2 separate regions of the Homo sapiens genome follow, and region 2 is linked to region 1. A link means that fine-mapping ties the variant in region 1 to the expression of a gene that starts in the linked region. Tissue or cell type: B cells. Region 1 holds a variant in brackets; the other region holds the start of a gene. All regions are shown on one strand. Distances are between the middles of the regions.

The links. PIP is the estimated chance that this variant, and not a neighbour inherited with it, causes the effect.
Region 2: it holds the start of GNB5, and the variant in region 1 is fine-mapped to the expression of GNB5 in B cells (Fairfax 2012, PIP 0.95). The same link has a PIP of 0.9 or more in monocytes after LPS.

What each region holds. Positions count from the first base shown.
Region 1 is chr15:52,118,021-52,126,125 of GRCh38, reverse strand. GNB5 (G protein subunit beta 5) reads left to right here. Exons shown (of 13, transcript NM_016194.4): 11 at 82-178; 12 at 1,487-1,653; 13 at 3,358-8,105. The coding sequence ends at 3,369. Among named protein-coding and RNA genes, the nearest start is that of BCL2L10, 9.3 kb to the right of the region's middle. The variant C/G (reference allele first, on the strand shown) is at 5,007.
Region 2 is chr15:52,186,759-52,194,863 of GRCh38, reverse strand. It overlaps GNB5 (G protein subunit beta 5), which reads left to right and starts at 3,472. Exons shown (of 13, transcript NM_016194.4): 1 at 3,472-3,542. It overlaps MYO5C (myosin VC), which reads left to right. Exons shown (of 41, transcript NM_018728.4): 41 at 810-2,542. The coding sequence ends at 962. All of the region lies in intron 2 of CERNA1 (competing endogenous lncRNA 1 for miR-4707-5p and miR-4767), which reads right to left. RefSeq lists an enhancer at 2,875-3,374.

The sequences.
Region 1 (8,105 bases):
GCACCTACCTGTAGCTCTGTGGTCATCACGTCACCAAACTGAAGCCAGAAGTAAGTGCTTCTTTATTTATTTGCTCCCCAGTGTCGCCTCTATGACCTGCGGGCAGATAGGGAGGTTGCCATCTATTCCAAAGAAAGCATCATATTTGGAGCATCCAGCGTGGACTTCTCCCTCAGTGGTAAGATTTTATTTCAGAAACTTTTCCCAGGACTGTAAGACAGGACCAGAATGAAACTAGCGCTCCATCATCGCTCAGTTCCTTTTCATCAACTGAGCTTCCTGTGGACCAGTATGCGAAATCATCCATATTTGCACCAGTTTTCCTCCTCTGAGCTTCTGACCTCCCACTTTGTCCTGCCCCAGGCAACTTCACTCCAGGGGGAAATGAAGGCTGTGTACCCACCTAATGCTGTCCTTCAAGGCAATGAAGTGTCAGAAATTCACTTCCACAATGCTCTCAGGCATTTTCTCCCCAGCCTTTGCTTCTCTTCATGCCCCAAAGGGAACTTTTCTGTAAGGTGGAGGTGAAGCAAGAGTCCCTTCTTGGTGGGATACTGTGGCTCACGCCTGTAATCCCAGCACTTTGGGAGGCCGAGACAGGCGATCACTTGAGGTCAGGAGTTCAAAACCAGCCTGGCCAACATGGTGAAACCTTGTCTCTAATAAAAATACAAAAATTGGTTGGGCATGGTGGCGCATGCCTGTAATCCCAGCTACTCAGGAGGCTGAGGCAGGAGAATCGCTTGAACCTGGAAAATGGAGCTTGCAGTGAGCTGAGATCGTGCCACTGCACTCCACCCTGGGCAACAGAGCGAGACTCTGACTCAAAGGGAAAAAAAAAATGAGTCCCTTCTCAGTGCCTTGAAGCTCATGGCTCCTTTGTGGGAAGCTGCTGGTGAAAAAGCATAGCTCCAGAAGGATCATGTCAAAAAAAGAAAGAAAAATAGAAAGTTAAAGCAGAGGTAACAGGCTGGCTACCTGGACCACTCCATTTCCCCAGACACATCCCTAGACTAACTGCACGTGAAGTTCCTGCTACTGCCTGGAACATCTTTTCCCTGCCTTCTCTGCATGACAGACTCCGATTCAACCCTCAAGAGCCAACTCAAATGTCACTTTAACTTTCTCTCTTTAAACAAGTTTTACAAGTTGTTAACTAGCAAATGACTAAAAATAATTTACTTGTGTCTGCAGTGCCCTCCTTAATCCCCCTTCCTCTCTGGTCCCATAGCACTTTACGTGTGTAAAGCACTTGCATTATGGCTGTTACCATGGGATGCTACAGTGATCTGTTCCTTTCAGCCCCACATCCTCCAACAGGGACAGGGACTGTGCTTTCTCCCCTTTGAATCCTTGAGGCAAAGCACAGTGCCTAGGACTCAGTGCGCCTGAATCACTGCTTACTGAATGAGTGAGTAACAGTCATGTAATGAGAAACAGGAAGCAAGGAACTGGCTTAACAGCTATCATCTCACCCTGCTTCAAGGTCGCCTGCTGTTTGCTGGATACAATGATTACACTATCAACGTCTGGGATGTTCTCAAAGGGTCCCGGGTCTCCATCCTGTTTGGACATGAAAACCGCGTTAGCACTCTACGAGTTTCCCCCGATGGGACTGCTTTCTGCTCTGGATCATGGGATCATACCCTCAGAGTAAGAGGGATGGTTTTCTGTTTTCCTGTGTGTGAGAGGAGAGAGGACTGGTGACAGGCCTTCTGAAGCAGAGGGAAGGCTATCAGAGTAAGCTCAGGTGGGCCTGGTCAGCCTCGCCGAGCTCTCATTTCCACTCTGCCCACAGCCACAGAGGGAATGGGTTGCCTGGAGAGGTAGCGAGTGCTGCATCAGTGCAGGTATTCTCGCACAGATTCGACAACTGCGTATCAGCCTGTAGGTGAGGGAATAGTTAGGCTTGATCATCCAGAAAGTTCCTTTTGACCCTAAAAGTCTGATTCTTGTGATTCTAGCCTTTGGCAAACCACAGATAACCAGTCTCTCCTCCTATAGTATAGGGTTCTTATTACGATTATTGACCTTGTGATGACAAGGGTCACAAATCCAGGAGGCTGTGAAGCCCCTGAAATTATTACTTTTTTCTTCCTTTTTTTTTTTTTTTTTTTTTTGGTTTTTCTATAGCTTAATCTTGGAAATGAAGCCCCTGAAATTATATGCCAAATTTGGGGTGTATGCCTTTTGTCCTCGTGGCTTTCATTAAATTCTCAAAGAGAGCTCCATAACCTTGTTGAGTGTTGGCTCACCCAAAATACTACCAAAATAGCCTGTTTAAGCTGGGCATGGTGGCTTATGCCTGTAATTGTAGCACTTTGGGAGGCCAAGTCAGGCGGATCACTTGAGGTCAGGAGTTCCAGACCAGCCTGGGCAACATGGTGAAACCCTGTCTCTACTAAAAATACAAAAATCAGCCAGGCGTGGTGGCATGCACCTGTAGTCCCGGCTACTCGGGAGGCTGAGGCTGGAGAATCGCTTGAACCCAGGAGGCAGAGGTTGCAGTGAGCCAAGATCATCCCACTGCACTCCAGGCTGGGCAACAGAGCAAGACTCTGTCTCAAAAAAAAAAAAAAAAAGTAGCCCATTCATAGAGCAAAGCTAAATTTATTGCTTACCTCAGTGTGGAACATCAAGAATTGGTAGAGGTGTAGTGGCATCTCAGAAGAGGATGACAAAGGCATGCATGAGGTTTTTTTGGTCTGGTTTAAGGCAGGTCTTTGTTGGGGGGCACTTAATTAGGATTGGACAACTTTGTGGCATAATAGTTTTAGGATTGCTGGATGCAGGGGTGGGGGAGGGTTTCGAACAAACCCTTTAAAACTAAATAGTCATTTGATGCTCTATATTGTCCTGAGACATGGGTGTGTTTTCTAAAGAGGGTAAGTTGAGTAGTCTAGTGTTAGGATAGAGAAAAGGATTTTTGCAAAATTCCTGAAACAAATAAAAAAGTTATCTGTGAGTTCATCTTCCTGGGTAAGAGTGTCCTAAGTGAGTAGTCATGTTAATGTATATGGTGAGCTGTATGGGTTCAAATGGTTTTGGTTGTCAATCTGGAAGAGTAGCTAGGCCCGTAAGGAGGCTGCAGATGCCCCACAGACAATTAACTAAGGGAGGAGAAGATCAGGTCCAAAGAAGCACCTTTGCATTGCTAGGAGTACAGTGTTATCCTTCTAAGGCACATGAGCACCCTATTTTGGATGGAGTGTGTATGTTTGTGTGTGTGTGTGTGTACACACACATATATGTATGCCCATGCATGTGTGTGAATAGACTAATTTTATCTCTTTAAGCTCAAGTTTTATAAGTTGTTAACTACAAAGGTCTAAAAACTATCTGTTTGTGTCTTCACAGGTCTGGGCCTAATCATCTTCTGACAGTGCACTCATGTATACCTGAGAATTTGAAATCTTCACATGTAAATAGATATTACTTCTAGAGGAGCTTAGAGTTTATTGCAGTGTAGCTTAGGGGAGCAACCCATGGCTCACAGGTCACTAAGCGTCTCCAATATGACTATTAAAACTGTCACCTCTGGAAATACACTAGTGTGAGCCTTCAGCACTGCGAGAATACCTTCAAGTACAGTATTTTTCTTTTGGAACACTTTTTAAAATGTATCTGTTTTTAAGGTTATTCTAAATTATAGTAGCCTCAACTCATTCTGTCACCAGTAGAATTCAGCAGTTAATATATTCCATATTATTTCTTTGAATCAATTCATTTTCAGAGCACTTTAAAGTCTGATATTTCTCGATGTGCACTGTGATGCCTGGAACCTTCCTCTGGAAGTGCTGATTTTATGGACTGAGGACTGGTGACTGGTCTGTGATAGAAGCAAATTCCAATTCCAAATGTAATTAGACAAAAATCATTTTTTTAGAATGTGTTTTTATTGTAAAAGTATCTTTTTCAGCTTCCTGTTCTATTGTCTTTTTTCAGATACAACATTTTTGTCTATGGTGAACTGCTGTAAATGACGCAGAGAAATGCCTAAAAAGGACAGGTGGTTTGACTCATGGATGATGATGATGTCACTGTGCCACTTGGACAGGGCGTTTTCTCTGAATTGAAGGGAAAGCCAATGGTGTTTGTAAACAAATGCTTCTGAGAGCAAAGAAAAGTCTTCTGTGTGGGAACACAAGATAGTAAACTTATTTAAAAACCTATTAGTAGAATTAGTGGAAACACTTAGGTTAAAGTGAATCTTGTCCATATAAATTATATTCATGGCCGGGCGCGGTGGCTCACGCTTGTAATCCCAGCACTTTGGGAGGCCGAGGCGGGCGGATCACGAGGTCAGGAGTTCGAGACCACGGTGAAACCCTGTCTCTACTAAAAAATACAAAAAATTAGCCGGGCGTGGTGGCGGGCGCCTGTAGTCCCAGCTACTCGGAGAGGCTGAGGCAGGAGAATGGCGTGAACCCGGGAGGTGGAGCTTGCAGTGAGCCGAGGTCGAGCCACTGCAGCCTGGGTGACAAAGCGAGACTCCGTCTCAAAAAAAAAAAAAAATTATATTCATATGTATTGCATTGCAATTATAATTACATATGCAGATTGATTGATAGTCATGAATAATAACGTCTGCTCCTCTTACATAGAAAAACGATATTAAAAGAAGATCTTCTCTTTATTTGAGACTCAGAATTCCTTCTAGAAGAAGGAAGTGCTTTTTGTTATAGGATCCCTTCTTTTCCTTTTTTTGTTTTTTTGTAAGATGTAGATGCTTATTCTTTGCTTTAGAAAACTTCTCACTTAAAAAGATGGCATGCACCTAGGGGAATAAAAGGTCACCTCAGACACCAGGTGTCATTCCTGGTGAGGCCTGCCTCGTCGGTGGCCTGGGGTCTGCCGGCAGGTTCTGGCTGCACCTGAAGGCTGCGTGCACCTTGTCCCCTGGACAGGTCTCCTTTCCTGGCCCTGCTCCAGCCCAGCCCTTCTTCTAGTGGTAGCTCTGGCTTTGCAGGCCCAGCTCCAGGCCCTGCTCCTCAGAGAGACTCTTC[C/G]AGAGCTGGAGCTGGGCACAGCCATAAGACAGGACTGGACCAGATGCTCCTGTAAACATCCAGGGGTGTGCCAGGCCCACCCTCACAACTGCTTGTTCAGGTATCGTGATGGGCCACTCGGTCCAAAATCAGCCAGGCCATCTTTTCCATCATCTCACTTCAAATAAACATAATAATTATATTTGATCATTTGCAGAGCAGTTACTGGTGGTTTTATTGTACACTGGGGTCTGGGGTAGAGAGAGAAAAATGAAGGGCCTCTGCCTTCCTCCAGGGAGCCCAGAGAGAGTGCTTTTTAGTCCCAGTAGATTCCAGTCTGGGCAGGGGCTCAGGAAATGGGCCCAGTGTCTGGCCAGCTCCTGCCAGGTGCTGAAGGGGTCAGGGCACCATGGGATTCCTGAGCTCTGCTCCAGAATGTCCCACAGTGGCCCCTGGTGCAGCTGGCCTCCTTGTGGTGGCATCCCCAACCCTCTCTCCCACAGCCATTTTTTTTTTTGTCTCTGCACTGTGCCTTCCGGCTCCCAGAAGTGCAGGAAGGCACGAGAAAGGAAGGAAAGGTGGCCCAGGGAAGCACATTCCAGGTTCCATGTTTGGAGAGGTGGAGAGCATCTTCAGGATATGTGCAAAGTAGACTGTGACTTTCCAATCCAAAAAGCCACTTTAAGGGCCCAGGGAAAGTATTCCAGAGAATGCTTCCACTCCCCGCATGGGCAGGAAGCCTCCTTCGCTGTGAGCATGCGCTCTCGCAGTGGGTGCTGTCGGGATTTGCTGATGAGATACTTGATTTGGACTATGTGACAGCATGTGGAGACTCAGGGGTAAGCTCCATGGGATAGATTGTATTTTGCAGATTGAAAATAATGCTGAGTGCATTTTATAATCAGCTTTTCTTTTTTCCAGAGGACTTGGGGATAAACCTACCAAACCAATTGTGGTGAAGGGGCCAAACAGATGGGCCCCCAGGGGTGTAGAGCCTTGGGCAGCCCCCTCCTGGGCCAGAAAAAAGAAAGTTCAGGCAGAAAGGTGTGGGTGATGGGTATTTATGGGAAATATCTGTGACATGAAGCCAAGTCCAGTGCTTTAGAATGCGCGGTCAGCCTCTCACCGGTGGGGCCCTGGCAGCCGTCCCTCTTCTCCCAGGCGAGCCAGAGGTGGGCATCCCGTTGCCACTGCCCTCTTCCCGCTCTTCTACCTCCTTTGCACCCTTCTCTAGGTTATAAGTGGCTTAAAACAGCACAGGGTTGTAAGGGCCTTTGTGTCCCGGGCTCTCATAGTTGCCAGGCCAGCTGGCTGAAAGGTGGCACCACCGATACTGGGACTCCTCTGTGAGTTAGAGGGATGCCTTGGTGACATAAGAGGGCTGGCCTTCATTCACACCCACCTCTGTCACGGTCACAGAATATATGATAATATCTGAGTTTTTCTCAGCCTCAGTTTCCCCATTTGTAACATGGGATGGGACTAAAATATGTAAAGTGCCTACCTCAGCCTTTAGCACATCTTCAGGAAGGGTTAGTTCCCAGCTTCTCCCTGTGTCCTCCTCAGTCCCCTTCCTATTTGCCCCCCTCCCTTCTCCCTCCACCTATCTTCCCTCTTTCTCTTCCCTTCCCCTCCTCCTCCCTCTCTCCTCCCTCTCTCCCATTTCCCCCTCCCTCCCTCCCATCTCCTCCTCCCTCCCTCCCATCTCCTCCTCCTCCCTCCCATCTCCTCCCTCCCATCTCCTCCTCCCTCCCATCTCCTCCTCCCTCCCATCTCCTCCTCCCTCCCATCTCCTCCTCCCTTCCTCCTGTCACCCCTCCTCCCTCCCTCTCATCACCTCCTCCCTCCCTCCCATCGCCTCCTCTCTCCTTCCTATCTCCTCTTTCCTCTTCTCTGCCCCCTCCCCCTCTCCTCATTCATCCGGACTCCTTTTTCTAACCCTTCTCAATCTTCCCCCATTCCTCATCTCCTCTTCCTCTGTCTCCCTGTTCCACCTCTCTCCTGGTCTCCTTCCTTCCCCTTCTGCTGTTTCTCCCTCCCTCCTCCTCCCTTCCCATTCCCCTTCCCCCAGCACTTCCTTTTCTCCCCATCTCCTCCCCATTCCCCTTCCCCCAGCTCTTTCTTTTCTCCCCATCTCCTCCCCATCCATAGGCAGCCCCCACTCATATAGCAAATTAGTAATTCTCATCAGTTAGAGCTTCGTCTGGGCTAGTGGTTCTCAAACTTTTTGGTCTTAGGATCTCTGTACACTTTTTTTTTTTTTTTTTTTTTACGTGGAGTTTTGCTCTTGTTGCCCAGGCTGGAGTGCAGTGGCGCGATCTCGGGCTCACTTCAACCTCCGCCTCCTGGGTTCAAGCGATTCTCCTGCCTCAGCCTCCCGAGTAGCTGGGATTACAAGGCATGCACCACCACGCCCGGCTAATTTTGTATTTTTAGTAGAGACCAGGTTTCTCCATGTTGGTCACACTGGTCTCGAACTCCCAACCTCAGGTGATCCTCCCACCTTGGCCTCCCAAAGTGCTGGGATTACAGGTGTAAGCCACCGTGCCCAGCCTACACCCTTAAAAGTTATTGAGGACCCCAAATAACTTGCTCATTGTGGATTGTATCTATCCATATTTATTGTATTAGAAATTAAGACTGAGAAAAAGTTATAAAACACAAGAATACAGATGCACACGTTCCATTAGCCATCAAGGTGATCTTTCTCCCATGCCAGTAGTCTCTGGAAAATTCCTGAGAGGATGAAAATAAAAAAATCACCCATACAAAAAAAAAAAGTGTCAATATTATTATGAAAATAGTTTTGACCGTGAGGACCCCCTGAAAGGGTCTCAGGGACCCTCGGGGGCCCTGGATCTTGCTTTGAGAACAGCTGATCTGGGCTAATGAGCCCTTTTCCAGCCCCTCTGTGTGAGACCTCCCAGAAACCACTAAGGGCCTTGGAAGAGCTTGGCAAAGAAAGAGGTGACAGGATGATTGAGGAGAGCCACCCTAGGGAAAGCCTTCAGAGGAGGCTTTGGGACAGCCCCGGTCGGTGGAGGAAGTCCCAGAGAGGCAGTCGGAAGGGCTAGGGACCAGCTGAGGCCTGTGACCTGAAAATCCTTTCAAAAGAGGACG
Region 2 (8,105 bases), 69 kb before region 1:
TTCTCAATAGTTATCTGTGGATTTTCTTCGTGTACTTCAACCAAAATAACATATCACAACAGATTGAATGCAGAAGCAGATATATATGATATATCGTATATATGATAATATAGCATATATATTAAAATATGGCGTATATAATATATGGTTATATATGATAATATATTAAGTCAGACATGAAAGAGATTTGCAAAAATAGAAAATACCACTTCTCACTAAATTTTCTTTGTTTTGGAAACTTATGTTTAACATGTGTAGAGCTTATTTTAATGAATTAATAAATCATTTTAATTACTAATATGGCAAATACCGATATACACATATACACAATGTATATTTAATTACTAATATGGCAAATGCCAATATACCCATATACACAAAAGCTTTTGGGGCCTCAGTCATGTTTTAGTATAAAGCGGTCCTGAGACCAAAAAGGTTGCAAACCCATGAATGAAGAAGAAAGATGGGTTCAATAAAAATGTAATACTTGAAATCTACTCATGTTTGACCTTAGAATTATGCCATGAGAATAGATTAGAATAGAAAACAGATTTATGGTCAACTCATCCCATGGGAAATTAACTTCTGAAGTGAAACAGGACAAGTTAATTGTTCTGAGAGCTGATCTGGAAGCCCTGGATAGACTTTGGAATTGTGCTGTTGTTAAAAAGTTCTCATGTATGTCATTTCATGTGATGGTGCAAGGAGCTCTCCACTAGAGATAGCTGTGTTTTGCCTTGACTTTCAGGTAGCAGTAAAGCAGAACATGTTAGTTTCCTTACTCATTTTTCCTCTGATTCTAATTTCAGGCTCTCCTAAATAGCCGGGAGGATTCATCACAGCTGATGTTGGATACCAAATATCTCTTTCAAGTCACATTTCCTTTTACCCCCTCTCCACATGCTCTGGAAATGATTCAGATCCCCAGCAGTTTCAAGCTAGGCTTTCTGAATAGGTTATAGCAGGAGAAAAAGTCAATGCACTTTTTCTTCAAAAGCTAAGTGAAGGTTCAATATGAGGGATGTGTTTTATTAATTGGCAGTGGAAATTGGAATGTGATTTAAGGAAGAAAACAGACTTTTCTCAAATGGACCACATCATCTCTCACTCACAGTGACAATGCTGCTCCTGTAATTTTGTAAGAATTCACACACACCAGCTGTATTTGGAAAAGCCATGTCTCACTCTCGAATCTCAGCTGGTTTTCACTGAAATTCCTGGAGGGCTCATATTTTCTTCCACGTGCCTCTTGATCTGTTCTGTCTTGTGGCAGGGCTCTACCAGGAGGGAGTGAGATCTGGGGACACAGTGGCTTCCAAGTTTTCTAAGGTTCATGTGAAACCTGAGTACATTTACAAAGCTGCAAGTGGATTCTAGTGCTGAGTCTTCCAGGAAAAAATCCCGTTTGGCCACCGTGACCTGCCAAAAGTTCTCTTGCCCCATGCCTGCTGGGGACAGAAGGTTTTCATGAACTCTTTTTACTGAAAATGCCCTGCATTTAAAAATGTTTATTTTAGACCCTTCTAAATTTTTTTTTTTTTTTTTTTTTGAGACTCCGGAGTCTCGCTCTATCGCCAGGCTGGAGTGTAGTGGCATGATCTCGGCTTATTGCAACCTCCGCTTCCTGGGTTCAAACAATTCTCCTGCCTCAGCCTCCTGAGTAGCTGGGACTACAGGCACCTGCCACCACGCCCAGCTAATTTTTGTATTTTTAGTGGAGACAGGTTTCACCATGTTGGCCAGGATGGCCTCGATCTCTTGACCTCGTGATCCGCCCACCTCAGCCTCCCAAAGTGCTAGGATTACAGGCGTGTGCCACCGCGCCCGGCTGACCCTTTTAATTTTTAAGAGTGTTCAATCCGAGATGAATCATTTGAAGTATTTTTATATGTATATCTATTTAAAACTAATATATTATTAAAGCTTAATTGCCATGCCGTTTATCTTCTCTGAAAGAACTTCAAATCTTACCTGCCAACATATTCACCATAATTTTTTTATTTTTTAATACCTTTCATACAATAACTTTTTTAAAACAACCTCAGATTGAAAAAGCAACCTAAATTACTTTCGCTCTCTAATCAGCATTTCAATGTATTTATTTTTAAATTTTCTCAAAAAGTAACTAAAAAATTGTGTCGGACCCTACTTTTGAGAAATCTACGTTTCCCAAGTTTTATGGGAACTGGCTATTCCTTGTCCCGGCACACCTTCTCATTCCTTCCTTTCAGAGCCTAAAACCTCATTTGATAAGCACTCCTAGTCTCTGGCCTGTGGATCCAGTGCTATTCTGTCACCAACCTAAGAATCCCAATTGCACCTTCTGTTTCTGACAGTCACAGGTGACAGCTGTGATTCTATAATACAGACTGGTGTCTTAGAGGTAGGAATAATACATGATTATGAAGCATCACCCTGCTAATACATAATAATGTCTTTTTATATTATAAGTGATTGAGTTTAGTTCATTTCAATACATTGTACATGAAAAAATGAAAAGTAGAACTTTGTAATACTTTAATCAATAAAATTAATTACCAAATGAATTGGGTCAGATTCTTTCATTGCGAGGAGATGACATGTCTCTTAAGTGTACAAGTTGTATGCCTTTCTTTACGGTCATACTGAAAGATGCTAGAATCTTTATAGATTCATAATATCTCATTTAAAGTATATTAAAATGTTTAGAGAAGAAGTAAATATGTCATAAGTGCTGGCTTAGGCTGTGTCTCCAGGGCGCTTCCACACTGTCAGAATGAGGGGCTACTTGGCAGAGAATTGGCAGGGTTTCTGATCCTGAGCTGCGGCCTCCATGCCCTTTCTAGACCTTCCCCACACCATGAGGAGCCATCACTGTTGGTTTTCGGCTTCCATAACTCAGGATTTATGCCTGTTTTATAGCACTTACCCTGGACTGGAAGCCAGAAATGCTGCCCATTTCCTCTGTAGGCCTGTGAGCCCCAGAGGGCAGGTGCCACATCCTCCTCATCCCTGCCTTCATCCTACTGCTGATGAGGTGGGAAGAGAACTGAAGGAGCAAAGTCCCGTTGGAGGACTGTGTGTGTGTGGTGGGGAGTCAACCATGGGAAAAAGTAGGTCATGTTTGGGGACAGGGAGACCTGTGGAGGCTGAGGAGTTTATGTGTGGAAAAATGGGGAAAGGGAGGCACTCATCCCACAGTCTTGATCAGTTCTACAAAGCTGACAGTGGCAAGGAGACCAAAATAGAGAAATGTTAAGAACATGTGGCCCAGGTGAATGTGAGGGCTGCTCAGTGAGTGGGCGCAGACACAGAGGTCAAACCTGCCAAGGCCTCCCTCCACAGAGGGGCTGGGCAGGTTCCAGGGGTGAGTGAGGGATGCAGATGGCAGTGCGTGCCCAGCAGGGAGCATGGAAGTGCTGTGGAGGAAGGAAGCAAGCTGAGCAGCACTCCAGAGAAGATAAGGAGATTAGCCAGTGGGAGACGTGCTTCACACCTCAAGCTGCGCGCTGGTCCTCACCTCTCACCATCTGCTCTGTGGCTCCCAGTGCTGACTCTGGAAGGTATGTGCATGCTGACATTCGGTTAAAATACTCCAGCTTTTGAAATGCTCAGAAAAGCATCCAGATGAGTACAGGGCACAGTGTTAGCAGGTCTTTCTGTGCGGTGGGAGCATGGGTGAGGGGTTTTGTTGTTGTTAATCCGTAGAATCTAATTTTTCTACAATACACATGAATTTATTTTGAAATAGTAAATTTCAAATATTTCAAATTGAAATATTTCAATATTTTTTACATTAATATTGGCATCAGGAAAGAGATTAAGCATACTTAAAATCACTAAGTCAGTTTTAAAATTTGATCCAGGTGACACATGGCAACATAAGCCTCTGAGTACAGCTTATGGGGTTAGAAAGAGGTTTTTAGTTGTAAGTCTGAGATACATCCACATTGTGTGTATCAGTTATTTTTTATTCTATGCTCATTTCACAGTTTCGTCTGTGACTGGTGAACATTTGGGTCTTTCAAGTTTAGGCCTTCTATGAATAGCTGCTATGACATTTATGTTTTTTTTTTTTTTTTTTTTTTTTTTTTTTTTTTTTTTTTAAGGAAATAAGCATTATTTTCTGTGGTGTATGTATGCACGAGTAGAATTGCCTGGTCATAGACTATATCCGTTTCACTTTAGTAGCTCCTACCAACCAGTTTTCTACAGTGGTTATACCGACTTATACTCCCACTAGCAGAGAAAGGCAGTTCCAGTCTCTGCATCCTTGCCCACACTTTGTGTTGTCAGGCTTTTTAGGTTTTCTGATGGCTAAGTAGTTGTATCACATCGTAGTTTTACTTTGTATTTCTATGATGACTAATGATAATGAGCACCTTTTTATATGTTTATTGACCATATAAGTATCCTCATTTGTGAAGTGACTACACAAGCCTTTTGTCCATTTTAAAAATAATCTTTGGGCTGGGCGCGGTGGCTCATGCCTGTAATCCCAGCACTTTGGGAGGCTGAGGCGGGCAGATCATGAGGTCAGGAGATTGAGAGCATCCTGGTTAACACGGTGAAACCCCATCTCTACTAAAAATACAAGAAATTAGCCGGGTGAGGTGGCGGGCGCCTGTATTCCCAGATATTTGGGAGGCTGAGGCAGGAGAATGGCATGAACCTGGGAGGCGGAGCTTACAGTGAGCCGAGATTGCGCCACTGCACTCCAACCTGGGCGACAGAGCAAGACTCTGTCTAAAAAAAAAAAAAAAAAAATTTATTGAGATATGATGTCCACGTTTTGTTTCATGTTTTAAAACCCATCATTTTAAAACATATATTTCAGTGTTTTTTAAGTTTATTTACAAGGATTTGCAACCATTGCCACTGACTCCAGAGTATTTTCATCACCCCGAAAAAGAAATCCCATACCCCTTAAGCAGCCACTCACTCTCAGCTCCCTCCTTCCCCCTTATTCTCTCTTCCCTCCACCTCGCAACTACTCATCTGCTTCATGTCTCTATGGATTTGCTGATCCTGTACACTTCATATAAATAAATCATACAATATGTGGCCTTTTGTGTCTGGCTTCTGTCATAGGATAGCGTTTTTAAGGTTTGACCATGTTGTAGCATGTGTCAGAACGTCATTCTTTTTTATTGCTGAATAGCAGTCTACTGGAGGGATAGACATTTTGTTTTTCATTTGTCGGTTGGTGGACACTTGGGTTGCTTTCACTTTTGGCTAATAATGCTGCCATGAAAATTAGTATGTACATTTTTATGTGAACATATATTTTCTTTTTTTTTGTTCTGAGACGGAGTCTCACTGCATTGCCCAGGCTGGATTTCAGTGGCGCGATCTTGGCTCACTGCAACCTCCATCCCCCAAGTTCAAGCAGTTCTCATGTCTCAGCCTCCCAAGTAGCTGGGATTACAGGCACCTGCCACCACGCCTGGCTAATTTTTGTATAGTAGATATGGGGTTTCACCATGTTGCCCAGGCTGACCTCAGGTGATCTACCCGCCTGGGCCTTCCAAAGTACTGGGATTACAGGCATGAGCCACCACGCCCAGCCAGTGAACATACATTTTCAAGTATCCTGGGTATATATCTAGAAGTAGGATTGCGGGGTCTTATGGTAACAGCTGTATATTTAAGTTTTGAATAACTGCCAAACCGTTTTCCACAGCTGCACCATTGGAAAACGGCTACCCCACTTTACCTTCCCACCAGCAATGTATGAAGGTCCTTTTGTCCATTTTTAATTGAGTTAATGAAGCAGTATTTTAAAAGTAAAAACTGGATATACCCTATGTATCCAAACACGGAAGTTGGTTTAATAAATTATGACACTCCACAGCATAGAATAATGCTGAACCTATTACCAAACAAGGTTGATCTATAAGTGTTAACAGAATAAGTTAGATGAAGAAAGCAAGTAGCCCTATTTGCATGACTACCAAAGCTGTATCTATGTGTTTGTGCCAGAAAAGTCTGGAAGAATAAACAACAAACTAAGGGCAGTGAAAATGCAGGGCATGTGATGGGGGATTCAAGTTTTACTTTTTCATCTTTGGTACTGGTTCTTTTTAAAATAAACACGTATTTCTGTGGTAATTTTTTAAGTCACATATTTAGGTAAAACAGATATCAAAGAAAGTTTGTGCTTGGCATAAAGTTATTAGGGGAAGGTTTGAGAAGTTCTATGAACTACTGCAGAGCAACTTCATGTCAAAATTTGTTAAATGGGGCATTTCTGTCTTTCTTGTCAAAATGCTCATCGAAACATTGGCTCTAGCTGTGAAAAATTCTCTCATCATAAAAAGGATATTGACAATAAGTACAACAAAGTACTAAAATTTAGCTGATACAAATACTAAGTGAAAAACATCAAGATACAGAAATGTAATCAGTATACATGAACAGTATGACCTCAGTGGTCTCAAATCTATTCTTGCTACACCAAAATGTAAAAAGAAGTTTCTCTGAGTGGTGGGATTATAGGTGATTATCTTCTTCCTTATATCTTTTTTTCCCCCAAACTTTCTACAATGCATATGTATAATATTTACAGTTTAAAAATGCTTTAAATTTAGTTTGTAGCTTGCCCATGTTTAACCAGTGAGGTCTAAAATGCTAGCTATGTGATACGACTTAAGGCCCATAGGACTCAAAAATTGGAGTCTCCGTTAAAAAATGGTGTTTTCCAGTAATATGCAATGACGTGAAGATGAAAATGCTATTATATAAAGTAGTATATGGCATATAATTCCAATTTGTTAAAAAGTACACACATATATACTTATAAAGATACTAGAGGAAAACATAAAATGCCAACAGGTCAGTTGTTGGTGTAGGGCATGTGGGCGATTTACTTTCCCCTTTTTGTGTCCTTCTGTTTCCACTTATTTATTTATTTATTTTTAATTTTTAATTTTCTTTGAGATGGAGTCTCACTCTGTCACCCAGGCTGGAGTGCAGTGGCATGATCTCAGCTTACTGCAACATCTGCTTCCCGGCTTCAAGTAATTCTCCTGCCTCAGCCTCCCGAGTAGCTGGGATTACAGGTGCGCACCACAACGCCAGGCTAATTTTTGTATTTTTAGTAGAGATGAGGTTTCCTTATGTTGGCCAGGCTGGTCTCAAATTCCTGGCCTCAAGTGATCCACCCGCCTTGGCCTCCCAAAGTGCTGGGATTACAGGCATGAGCCACCACACCTGGCCCTGTTTCCAGTTATTTATAATGAACATTATCAGCATCTTTTATAATTTGAAAAAATTCAAAATTTAGTTTGAGAAGAAAAACATTGCCTCTATCTAGATATGGAATATCGGCTATCTTTTCAACTTGTCTTTCTCTCCCGTGCCTCCCAGCCATCCTTCTATTCCTCCTCCACTTGGTGCCATAGGTTCCTCTCGCCTTCCATTCCCATAGCTGCTCCTCTGTCCGCAGCTCATTTCCTCTTCTCCAGAACATAGCAATCTCTTAACCTAGTTTGTTTTCCTGCCGTCCCTTCTCTCTCTCTCTCTGACCTACTTCTGGAAGCACAAATGCTGGAATAATCCACGTGGATGACACTGCTCCCTTGCTTAACAGCCTGTGGCTCACCGTCCTAATGCTATTACTGGGAGTGTTCAGCCCAACCTTGTTACTGGCTGCCTTTACAGGGCTGGGGAGTGGGATGCAACAGTTACCAAGCCCCACCATGGGCCAGGCTCTGGAGGGCAGGCCCTTTTTTGTTAACTCACCTTTTGTGACAAAACCATGCAGCTTGACCATGCTAGCTTGGAAATAGGGTTCCAAAGTGTGTATTCATGCTACTTACAGACTCAGCTCTGCCGCTGACCTTGAACTTGTTTAATCCCCCTGCTTTTCCTCAGCTGTAACACAGATGTCCTGCCTCCCTCCCAGGGAGAGGCGAGGGCTGGGCACTCTGTGGCAGTTGGTAGCTGGTTTCCTTGCGAGCTGTTGTCCCTAAGGGATGCCCTGTACACCTTTGTTGCCCAGAGGTCTCGAACTGTGCTGACTGCCCCTTTGCTGTAAGAGCTCAGCCCAACTCATGAGCCCCCATTATCTCTCCAGCCCCAGGGTGGGCTCCACATGGCAGACGTTCCTCATCAGAAATGTCCCC